Homo sapiens: one gene and its partners. The protein of the gene in region 3 interacts with the protein of the main gene of each other region in a biochemical or structural test. Each region holds a gene or a part of one and is shown on either strand. Other genes may lie near its edges.

Evidence for each region.
Region 1: the proteins of LOXL2 (region 3) and FN1 interact in a biophysical measurement, tested with the Homo sapiens proteins (one study listed by IntAct).
Region 2: the proteins of LOXL2 (region 3) and DAPK1 form a complex in vitro, tested with the Homo sapiens proteins (one large-scale study listed by BioGRID and IntAct).

What each region holds. Positions count from the first base shown.
Region 1 is NC_000002.12:215,429,411-215,433,068, reverse strand, and holds part of FN1 (fibronectin isoform 1 precursor), read left to right. Parts: intron 1-1,104; coding exon 1,105-1,236; intron 1,237-2,216; coding exon 2,217-2,354; intron 2,355-3,658. UniProt on the Homo sapiens protein: Fibronectins bind cell surfaces and various compounds including collagen, fibrin, heparin, DNA, and actin. Fibronectins are involved in cell adhesion, cell motility, opsonization, wound healing, and maintenance of cell shape.
Region 2 is NC_000009.12:87,706,413-87,709,204, forward strand, and holds the end of DAPK1 (death-associated protein kinase 1), read left to right. Parts: coding exon 1-952; 3' UTR 953-2,222; downstream 2,223-2,792. UniProt on the Homo sapiens protein: Calcium/calmodulin-dependent serine/threonine kinase involved in multiple cellular signaling pathways that trigger cell survival, apoptosis, and autophagy.
Region 3 is NC_000008.11:23,394,096-23,397,753, reverse strand, and holds part of LOXL2 (lysyl oxidase homolog 2 precursor), read left to right. Parts: intron 1-3,658. UniProt on the Homo sapiens protein: Mediates the post-translational oxidative deamination of lysine residues on target proteins leading to the formation of deaminated lysine (allysine).

The DNA of each region.
Region 1 (3,658 bases), on a different chromosome or scaffold from region 3:
CATAGTAGAACCAAGAGACCTCTTGGGTTCCATTTCAGTAAGACATGCTTAGGGGAGTTGCCCATTTTAAATCACCTGGATATCTTCAAGCTAGACAAATCATGAGACTTTTCTGCAGTGACTGGGAAGGTGTTCATGAAGAGTGAACCAGCCATGTGTTGTCTGGTCTTCATGTTTGCAATGCAGAGACCTCTTGCACCTCACAGAAACAGTCTGGTTTCTTGGTGACCAGTAGGTTATACCCAGGAAGCAGATGTCACTATTCCTAGGGATAATACAAAATTATTAACCCAATAGAGTTTGCTAAGGAACTTTGGGAACCGGGCTGATTCTCAACTCTAGTTTAGCTAAGGCACTCTTTCCAGTATGATTCACTGGGTTACCAATAGATTCTATTAAGATAGTATTTAAGTTTTTTAATCCATTCTTTAAATATAAGTCGTCTTAAAGACTTCTATTCAAAAGAACAAGTCCCGTGTGAATAGGCCCAATCAACTTTCCCCATATTTCATGTTAGGGTTTATCCAAGTTCACAGGCAAATCGCAAGAGGCAAGGGTCCATAGTGTTTACAATCTAGTTCAGCATTTGAATGTGCCATTGGGCTTAACAACTTAGAAAACTACCAGGATTTCCACACTTTATATGCATATGTCTGTTTGCTTTCCACCAAAATGACATTTCTATCCTAGGGTAAAATACAGGCTCTCCATGCTCCCAAAAGCTGGAGTGCTGTGCCTGATGTGGCCTTTTCACTGAATTAGTCTCAGTCTTAGCCTGCTGTGTATGAGTGAAGACCAAGCCTCCCAGCCTTTCTTTTCTGCTTAGGACCCAATTTCCTGTGATCTCTCTGGGAAAGCAGGATTCATGACCTCTTCCTTGCCATCCAGATTTCTCTGTGGTTTTCCATTGTGTTCTAAGCAAGACACTTAACTGAATTGACTCCAAGTGACCAGACCTGTTAACGTTTCCCCTGTCTCTGATGGGAAAGCTGTTGTCTGTGTCTCTACTTTAGCCAACCTAAGTACCTACCATGGGTGGAATATGAGACCAAAAAAAAAAATCTGTTCTGCCCTCTCCTAACATTTTCGTTGTATCTTCAACAGACCGCTGCCATGAAGGGGGTCAGTCCTACAAGATTGGTGACACCTGGAGGAGACCACATGAGACTGGTGGTTACATGTTAGAGTGTGTGTGTCTTGGTAATGGAAAAGGAGAATGGACCTGCAAGCCCATAGGTGTGTGAGTCTTAGGGCTGAGCAAGAGCTGGGATGCTTAGTTCTAATGTGGGGTTGGACCAGAATCACATCTACATAGGTCATAGACCTGAATTCCAGTGAAAACCAATAAAGAAATGGGAATTTTGTTTGAAATAATGAATTATTATATAATCCATAGTCTTCTTACAGGAGTTAGATCAAAAAGTACTGACTACACATAGAAGTCTTAACTTTGCTTCAAAAGCATAAGGTAGAATTGAAAGATTTAGAATGGAGTCATTTCTTTTACCTAATAGCTGATCTCAGATTCCTCCTTCGTCAAGATATAATTTATTTAAAAGAAAAAAAAATGACACTTTGGACACATTTCTATATGGAATGTCCTGGACCGAAACATGAAATAGTGTGTGCTTGTCACACTCTGCTCATTTCTTTTCAAATTAAAAGTTGTTGAGCTTCTTTGGATCTCAATCCTCAGTTGAATTTTGTAAGTACAAGCCTGAAAGTTTCTGGCTATAAATTTTACTCTGTTTACTTGTCTTCTAATTTAGAGGTTTTTGTCTTGTTTTGTATTGTTTTGCTTTCCAATATTTAAAAATAGCTTTCTTTGTCATTGTATTTAGGCCACTCAAAATTCATAATTGGTCATTTATAATTAAGATTGGAATTTTGCATATGTAGTCTCCCACAGACTAGATACATACATAGATCCTTGCTACTGGAAATGCTGCTGGGAAGTTTGGGGCTCGCTGAAAATATGTAGTCCATGTACTTATTAGGAGAATGGAATTTCTGCCTGCCAACTCAGCTTGAGCTTTCTTTTGCCTTGGCTACTTACTGTGTGCTTAGATGCTGGGTGTGTCATTCTTTCTGAACAGAGTGCCACTTAAAAAAAATGTGGCTGAATTTTTGCTTACACACTACACTTTAAATTACAGGGAGCTTGCACAATTCAAAATAACCTTTTTTTCCTGTTTTTCTTCCAAATTTCCCTACAGCTGAGAAGTGTTTTGATCATGCTGCTGGGACTTCCTATGTGGTCGGAGAAACGTGGGAGAAGCCCTACCAAGGCTGGATGATGGTAGATTGTACTTGCCTGGGAGAAGGCAGCGGACGCATCACTTGCACTTCTAGAAGTATGTTTTACATCTTTATGTTAAAGATTAAGCCAGGTATTGTTTTCTGGATTCCTAGAGAGAAGGGTAATACTATGTTACTCAGAACACATCCAGTATATCAGCATGCTTTGGTAACTTCTGGAAGTCAAGAAAACTTTCATAACCAACTTATTCCGCATCTTCAGAGAAGACTACATAAATAGAAAAACATATCACTTTGATAAGGTTCAATCTCAGCTCACTGCCACTGACATAGAGTTGAACAAAAGGTTTAGGTTTCCTTCTATGTTTGAAATTTAAATAGGGCACATTCACAGGCTAAATTGATAAAATTAAAAAGAATTTATCCCATAAATTAAAATGATTTATCTACTCTGGAGTTAGGGATAGTGTCTCTGACCTAACGCATTTGATTAGTGCTGTAAAGAAGCTGGCCTCTGGTGTCTTTACTGCTCCTTCTAAGATTGTCTTGGGGTCTTAATTGTTGCCTTTGGGTTTGAAGGCTCCTTTTTTGATATTGTAAACTAATAACAGCTAGAGAGTTTGTTGAAGTAAAACAGCCATTAACTACTGGTGTTGTAAATAAGTTTAAAATCAAATCCAAATAATTTGAACCTGTTTTATTTATCTAGCTGAACCCATTTAACTACCTTTAACATAGCCATCATCCAAATTCAAATTCTTTGCTAACAAAAATAGGTCTCTCATGAAAAGTGGTAACCATTTTGACCAAAGCTTTCCCAGAAACTTGCTGGTTTATTAGATATTTTGCATTTAAAATGTTACTGTGATCATCAGACTTCCAAGATCTTTGTGGCAATATTTTAGCTTAAGACAAATTAGATGTCTGATTCAAACCTTATCTGTTATTTAGAACTCTTTAAATAGCAAGTTGGGAAAAGTTTCTCAAAGAGAAGTCATTTATTCCAGAAAATTTTATAAGGACTTACTTTGTTCAAGGTATTATAGGGGTGCAGATATGAAATGAACATTAGCCCAGCCTTCAAAGAGTACTTAGGGGGTCAGGGAGATGAGAAAGTCTTATACATATTTATCATCTGCAAAACACAGTATTAAAGATTTCAACAGAAATACTGAAAGTAGTGCTATGGAGGTTCAGGGGATGATAATACTTTTCGCTGGGGATTTGGGAAAAAGCTCTAATCAGTAATTATACCTTCATGCAAACTTCTATTCTTGTGGTAGATGGATGTGGGTGTGTATTTGTTTGAACCTACATCAACTATTAATTTTTTTTCTCTAACCCAGGAGTTGCAACAATATCCAATTCACAAAGACATCAGATCCTCTATACTCACATC
Region 2 (2,792 bases), on a different chromosome or scaffold from region 3:
CTCCTGGGCTGATGAGGAGGACGAGGTGATGGTGTATGGTGGCGTGCGCATCGTGCCCGTGGAACACCTCACCCCCTTCCCATGTGGCATCTTTCACAAGGTCCAGGTGAACCTGTGCCGGTGGATCCACCAGCAAAGCACAGAGGGCGACGCGGACATCCGCCTGTGGGTGAATGGCTGCAAGCTGGCCAACCGTGGGGCCGAGCTGCTGGTGCTGCTGGTCAACCACGGCCAGGGCATTGAGGTCCAGGTCCGCGGCCTGGAGACGGAGAAGATCAAGTGCTGCCTGCTGCTGGACTCGGTGTGCAGCACCATTGAGAACGTCATGGCCACCACGCTGCCAGGGCTCCTGACCGTGAAGCATTACCTGAGCCCCCAGCAGCTGCGGGAGCACCATGAGCCCGTCATGATCTACCAGCCACGGGACTTCTTCCGGGCACAGACTCTGAAGGAAACCTCACTGACCAACACCATGGGGGGGTACAAGGAAAGCTTCAGCAGCATCATGTGCTTCGGGTGTCACGACGTCTACTCACAGGCCAGCCTCGGCATGGACATCCATGCATCAGACCTGAACCTCCTCACTCGGAGGAAACTGAGTCGCCTGCTGGACCCGCCCGACCCCCTGGGGAAGGACTGGTGCCTTCTCGCCATGAACTTAGGCCTCCCTGACCTCGTGGCAAAGTACAACACCAGTAACGGGGCTCCCAAGGATTTCCTCCCCAGCCCCCTCCACGCCCTGCTGCGGGAATGGACCACCTACCCTGAGAGCACAGTGGGCACCCTCATGTCCAAACTGAGGGAGCTGGGTCGCCGGGATGCCGCAGACTTTTTGCTGAAGGCATCCTCTGTGTTCAAAATCAACCTGGATGGCAATGGCCAGGAGGCCTATGCCTCGAGCTGCAACAGCGGCACCTCTTACAATTCCATTAGCTCTGTTGTATCCCGGTGAGGGCAGCCTCTGGCTTGGGCAGGGTCTGTTTGGACTGCAGAAGCAAGGGGGTGATGTAGCCCATCCTTCCCTTTGGAGATGCTGAGGGTGTTTCTTCCTGCACCCACAGCCAGGGGGATGCCACTCCTCCCTCCGGCTTGACCTGTTTCTCTGCCGCTACCTCCCTCCCCGTCTCATTCCGTTGTCTGTGGATGGTCATTGCAGTTTAAGAGCAGAACAGATCTTTTACTTTGGCCGCTTGAAAAGCTAGTGTACCTCCTCTCAGTGTTTTGGACTCCATCTCTCATCCTCCAGTACCTTGCTTCTTACTGATAATTTTGCTGGAATTCCTAACTTTTCAATGACATTTTTTTTAACTACTATATTGATTGTCCTTTAAAAAAGAAAAGTGCATATTTATCCAAAATGTGTATTTCTTATACGCTTTTCTTTGTTATACCATTTCCTCAGCTTATCTCTTTTATATTTGTAGGAGAAACTCCCATGTATGGAATCCCACTGTATGATTTATAAACAGACAATATGTGAGTGCCTTTTGCAGAAGAGGGTGTGTTTGAAATCATCGGAGTCAGCCAGGAGCTGTCACCAAGGAAACGCTACCTCTCTGTCCCTTGCTGTATGCTGATCATCGCCAGAGGTGCTTCACCCTGAGTTTTGTTTTGTATTGTTTTCTGACAGTTTTTCTGTTTTGTTTGGCAAGGAAAGGGGAGAAGGGAATCCTCCTCCAGGGTGATTTTATGATCAGTGTTGTTGCTCTAGGAAGACATTTTTCCGTTTGCTTTTGTTCCAATGTCAATGTGAACGTCCACATGAAACCTACACACTGTCATGCTTCATCATTCCCTCTCATCTCAGGTAGAAGGTTGACACAGTTGTAGGGTTACAGAGACCTATGTAAGAATTCAGAAGACCCCTGACTCATCATTTGTGGCAGTCCCTTATAATTGGTGCATAGCAGATGGTTTCCACATTTAGATCCTGGTTTCATAACTTCCTGTACTTGAAGTCTAAAAGCAGAAAATAAAGGAAGCAAGTTTTCTTCCATGATTTTAAATTGTGATCGAGTTTTAAATTGATAGGAGGGAACATGTCCTAATTCTTCTGTCCTGAGAAGCATGTAATGTTAATGTTATATCATATGTATATATATATATGCACTATGTATATACATATATATTAATACTGGTATTTTTACTTAATCTATAAAATGTCGTTAAAAAGTTGTTTGTTTTTTTCTTTTTTTATAAATAAACTGTTGCTCGTTGCATTAGTTTTTTTGATCTTTAATTCAAAAGGATTTCTTTTTACTTGTTGTGGTTTTACTGTTGTCACCCCACATAGCAGGACAACCCAGTCCAAAACCTAGAAAATCATTACACCTCAACTCTCAGGGTTATTGAGATGCCGATTATTACTCAAATTAGGAATGGTGTGGGAAAGTGAAAAGAGTTCAGATAATTTTCACATTTCTTCCCATTGTAAATAAAACAGGCCCCTTAGATTTTTCTCGGGTGAACCAAAAAACCAAACTGACTCTTTTAGTTTTGGCAACAGGGAACAGAGGAAGCTTTGCGACTTCTACACAAAAATGATGGGGATGGCACCAGGAGGAAGAGAAAACCTACAGCAAAAAGACCTTCGTGCCTTTCTTACATTTATAGTTCATTTATGTTTCAAGCAAGTTGTCCACAATAAACATGATTAACTTTCATAATGAGAAAAGAAGTCCTGATGAATAAAATTAAAACTAGACATAGGTGTGTCTACAAAGGATGAGACTGAAAGGGAAACTGTGGTCGCCTTAAGGAGCGGAAACTCCTTTTCTTGTCTCAGCTCCTTC
Region 3 (3,658 bases):
AGGCTGGGAGTGCAGTGGCGCGATCTCGGCTCACTGCAAGCTCCGCCTCCCAAGTTCACGCCATTCTCCTGCCTCAGCCTCCTGAGTAGCTGGGACCACAGGCGCCCGCCACCATACCCAGCTAATGTTTTCTATTTTTAGTAGATACAGGGTTTCACCGTGTTAGCCAGGATGGTCTCGATCTCCTGACCTCGTGATCCACCCGCCTGGGCCTCCCAAAGTGCTGGGATTACAGGCGTGAGCCACTGTGCCTGGCCGGAAAAGCATATTTCTAAAGATGATTTCACCCACCCCAAGAATAGCATATCTAGGTAAAATCACATGATCCTAAGTATATACCCACATAGGCTTTTTGGGTTGCTTTTGTGTTTATTGTGGTAAAATATACGTAACATAAAACTCACCATCTTAACTATTTTCAAGTGTACAGTGCAGTGGCGTTAAGTGTGTTGACACTGCTGTGCTACCATCACCATCAGCCATCTCTGGTACTTTTGCATCTTCCAAAACAGAAACTCTGTACCCATTGAACACTAACTCCACTCTCCCCCTCCGACCAATCCCTGGCAGCCCCCATTCTACTTTCTGTCTCTGTGACTATGACTGAACTAGGTACTTCATATAAGTGGAATATATTATATTTGTCTTTTCGTGTCTGGCTCATTTTACTTAGCATGGCTTCCAGGTTTTTTCACGTTGTAACCTGTGTCAGAATTTCCTTCCTTGTTGAGCCTGAATAATATCCCACTGTATGGATAGACCACATTTGTTTATCTCCTCCTCCACTGGTGGACATGTGAGTTGTTTCCACCTTTTGGTGACTGGGAATAATGCTGCTGTGAACATTGGTGTACAAATGCCTGTTATGGATGAACTTTTACAAAGTGAACATGCCCTTGCTACTACATCAAGAATAGAACATTAGCAAGAATGCATGAATTTAAAGGCAAAGCAGGAGATTTCAAATACGTTTCATGCCCAAACATGGCTGCTTCAATTACACCTCAAGATCTTGGGACTGGATATTGATTTTCTCTACCATGAGGGGGTTTGGAAGAGATATTTGAAAGAACACAGTTAATAATCTGTGATTTGAAAGAGTCAGTTTATAATCACAGATTAGTTATGAGATTTAAGTAGCTCCTTTCCTTAAAACGTCTAGGGATGGGAGTACAACCTGTTGAGATTTGCAATTGTAGCTGTGTTAGGGTATCACCACTAGGATCATTCCAGGCTGCCCCTTGGCCATTGTAGGGTTCAAATCCACCTGGAGAACTCCTGCCTTTCTGGCAGCTTCTGCTGGAGCACAAGTCTAAGCCCATTCTTTGGCCGTATCCTGCCTGCCCTCCTCATTTCCTTCCTCCCTCCTTCCCTTCCCACCTGATCTCTCTCTCGTTTTTTTGTTTGTTTGTTTGTTTGTTTGTTTGTTTGTTTTTGAGACTGAGTTTTGCTCTTGTTGTCCAGGCTGTAATGCAATGGCACGATTTGGCTGACCGCAACCTCCACCTCCTGGGTTCAAGCGATTCTCTTGCCTCAGCCTCCCGAGTAGCTGGGATTACAGGCATGTGCCACCACACCCTGCTAATTTTGTATTTTTAGTAGAGACAGGGTTTCTCCATGTTGGTCAGGCTGCTCCCGAACTCCCGACCTCAGGATCCTGCCGCAGCCTCCCAAAGTGCTGGAATTACAGGTGTAAGCCACCGTGCCCAGACTTCTCTCTCTTCTTAAGTAGAACGATTTATCAGTGACTCTAAGAGTTTATGTGTGTATTTAGAAATAAGGCCAGGCACAGTGGCTCACACCTGTAATTCTAGTACTCTGGGAGGCCAAGGTTGGGGGATTGCCTGAGCTCGGGAGTTCGAGACCAGCCTGGGCAACAGGGTAAAACCCCATCTCTACTAAAATTACAAAAATTAGCCAGTCATGGTGGTGCACGCCTGTAATCCCAGCTACTCAGGAGGCTGAGGCGGAGGTTACGGTGAGCCAGGATTGTGCCACTGTGCTCCAGCCTGGGCGACAGAGTAAGACTCTGCCTCCAAAAATAATAAAATAATAATAATAAAGTCTTCAGTCAAGAGTAATATTTTGATGCCTGGCAACCACCCCCAGGCTGCCTGCATGACACTTTCAAGTGTCATCGAAGTAGATTCTTTTTTAAAAGACTTTATTGAGATATAATTTGCATATCATCCAATTCACCCATTAAAATGTACAAGTCAATGGATTTCAGTATATTCACAGATATGTGCAAATATCACCCCAGTCAACTTTAAAATGTTTTCATCAACACAAAGAGAAGTCCATATCCGTTAGCCACCACCGCCTATCCTCCCAGCCTTAAACAGCCACTAATCTAGTTTCTGTCTCTATATTGCCAATTTTGTATAATTTGTGTAAATAGAATCATATAATATGTGGTTTTTTTTTTTTTTTTTTGGTCTGGCTTTTTTCACTTCCCTTAATGGTTTTTTTGTTGTTGTTTCTTTGTTTTGTTTTGTTTTGAGACGGAATCTTGCTCTGTCACCAGGCTGGAGTGCAGTGGCGCCATCTCGGCTCACTGCAACCTCCGTCTCCCAGGTTCAAGCGATTCTCCTGCCTCATCCTCCCAAGTAGCTGGAACTACAGGCGTGCGCCACAATACCCAGCTAATTTTTGTATTTTTAGTAGAGACGGGGTTTCACCATGTTGGCCAGGATGGTCTCGATCTCTTGACCTCGTGATCCGCCCACCTTGGCCTCCCAAAGTGCTGGGATTACAGGCGGGAGCCACGGTGCTCCCCTAATGTTTTTAAGCCTCACCATGTGTCAGTATCTCGTTACTTTTTATGGCCGAATAATATTCTATTGTATGGGCATACCGTATTTTGTTAATCCATTTATAGTTGACAGACATTTGGGTTGTTTCCACCCTTTGAGTATTATGAATAATACTGCTATGAACATTCATGTAAAAGTTTTGTTTGAACACCTGTTTCAATGTGTTTCAATTTTGGGGGGGTATATACTTAGGAGGGGGGTTGCTGGGTCATATAGTAATTCTATGTTTAGCTTTTTGAGGAATCACCAAATTGTTTTTCACAGTGGCTGTAGTATTTTACATTTCCACTAGCAACGTATGAGGATTCTAATTTCTCCACATCTTTGGGGACACTTTTTATTTTCCCCTTAAGAAAATTCCAGCCACCTTTATGGGTATGAAGTGGTATCTCATGGTACTTTGTGTTTGCTTGATGACGAGTGATGTATCACACCTTTTTATGTGCTTGTAAGCCATTTGTATATCTTCTTTGGGGAAGTGTCTATTTAAGTTTTTGCCCATTTTTAATTGGGTTGGTTGTCTTTTTTTTTTTTTTTTTTTCTCTGAGACAGAGTCTCACTCTGTCACCTAGGCTATAGTGCAGTGGCACGATCTCGGCTCATTGCAACCTCCACCTCCCGAGTTCAAGCGATTCTCCTGCCTCAGCCTCCCGAGTAGCTGGGACTACAGGCACGCGCTACCGTATCTGACTAATTTTTGTATCTTTAGTAGAGACAAGGTTTCACCATGTTGGCCAGGCTGGTCTTGAACTCCTGACCTCAGGTGATCCGCCCACCTCGGCCTCCCAAAGTGCTAGGATTACAGGCATGAGCCACCGTGCCTAGCCTGGGTTTCTTGTCTT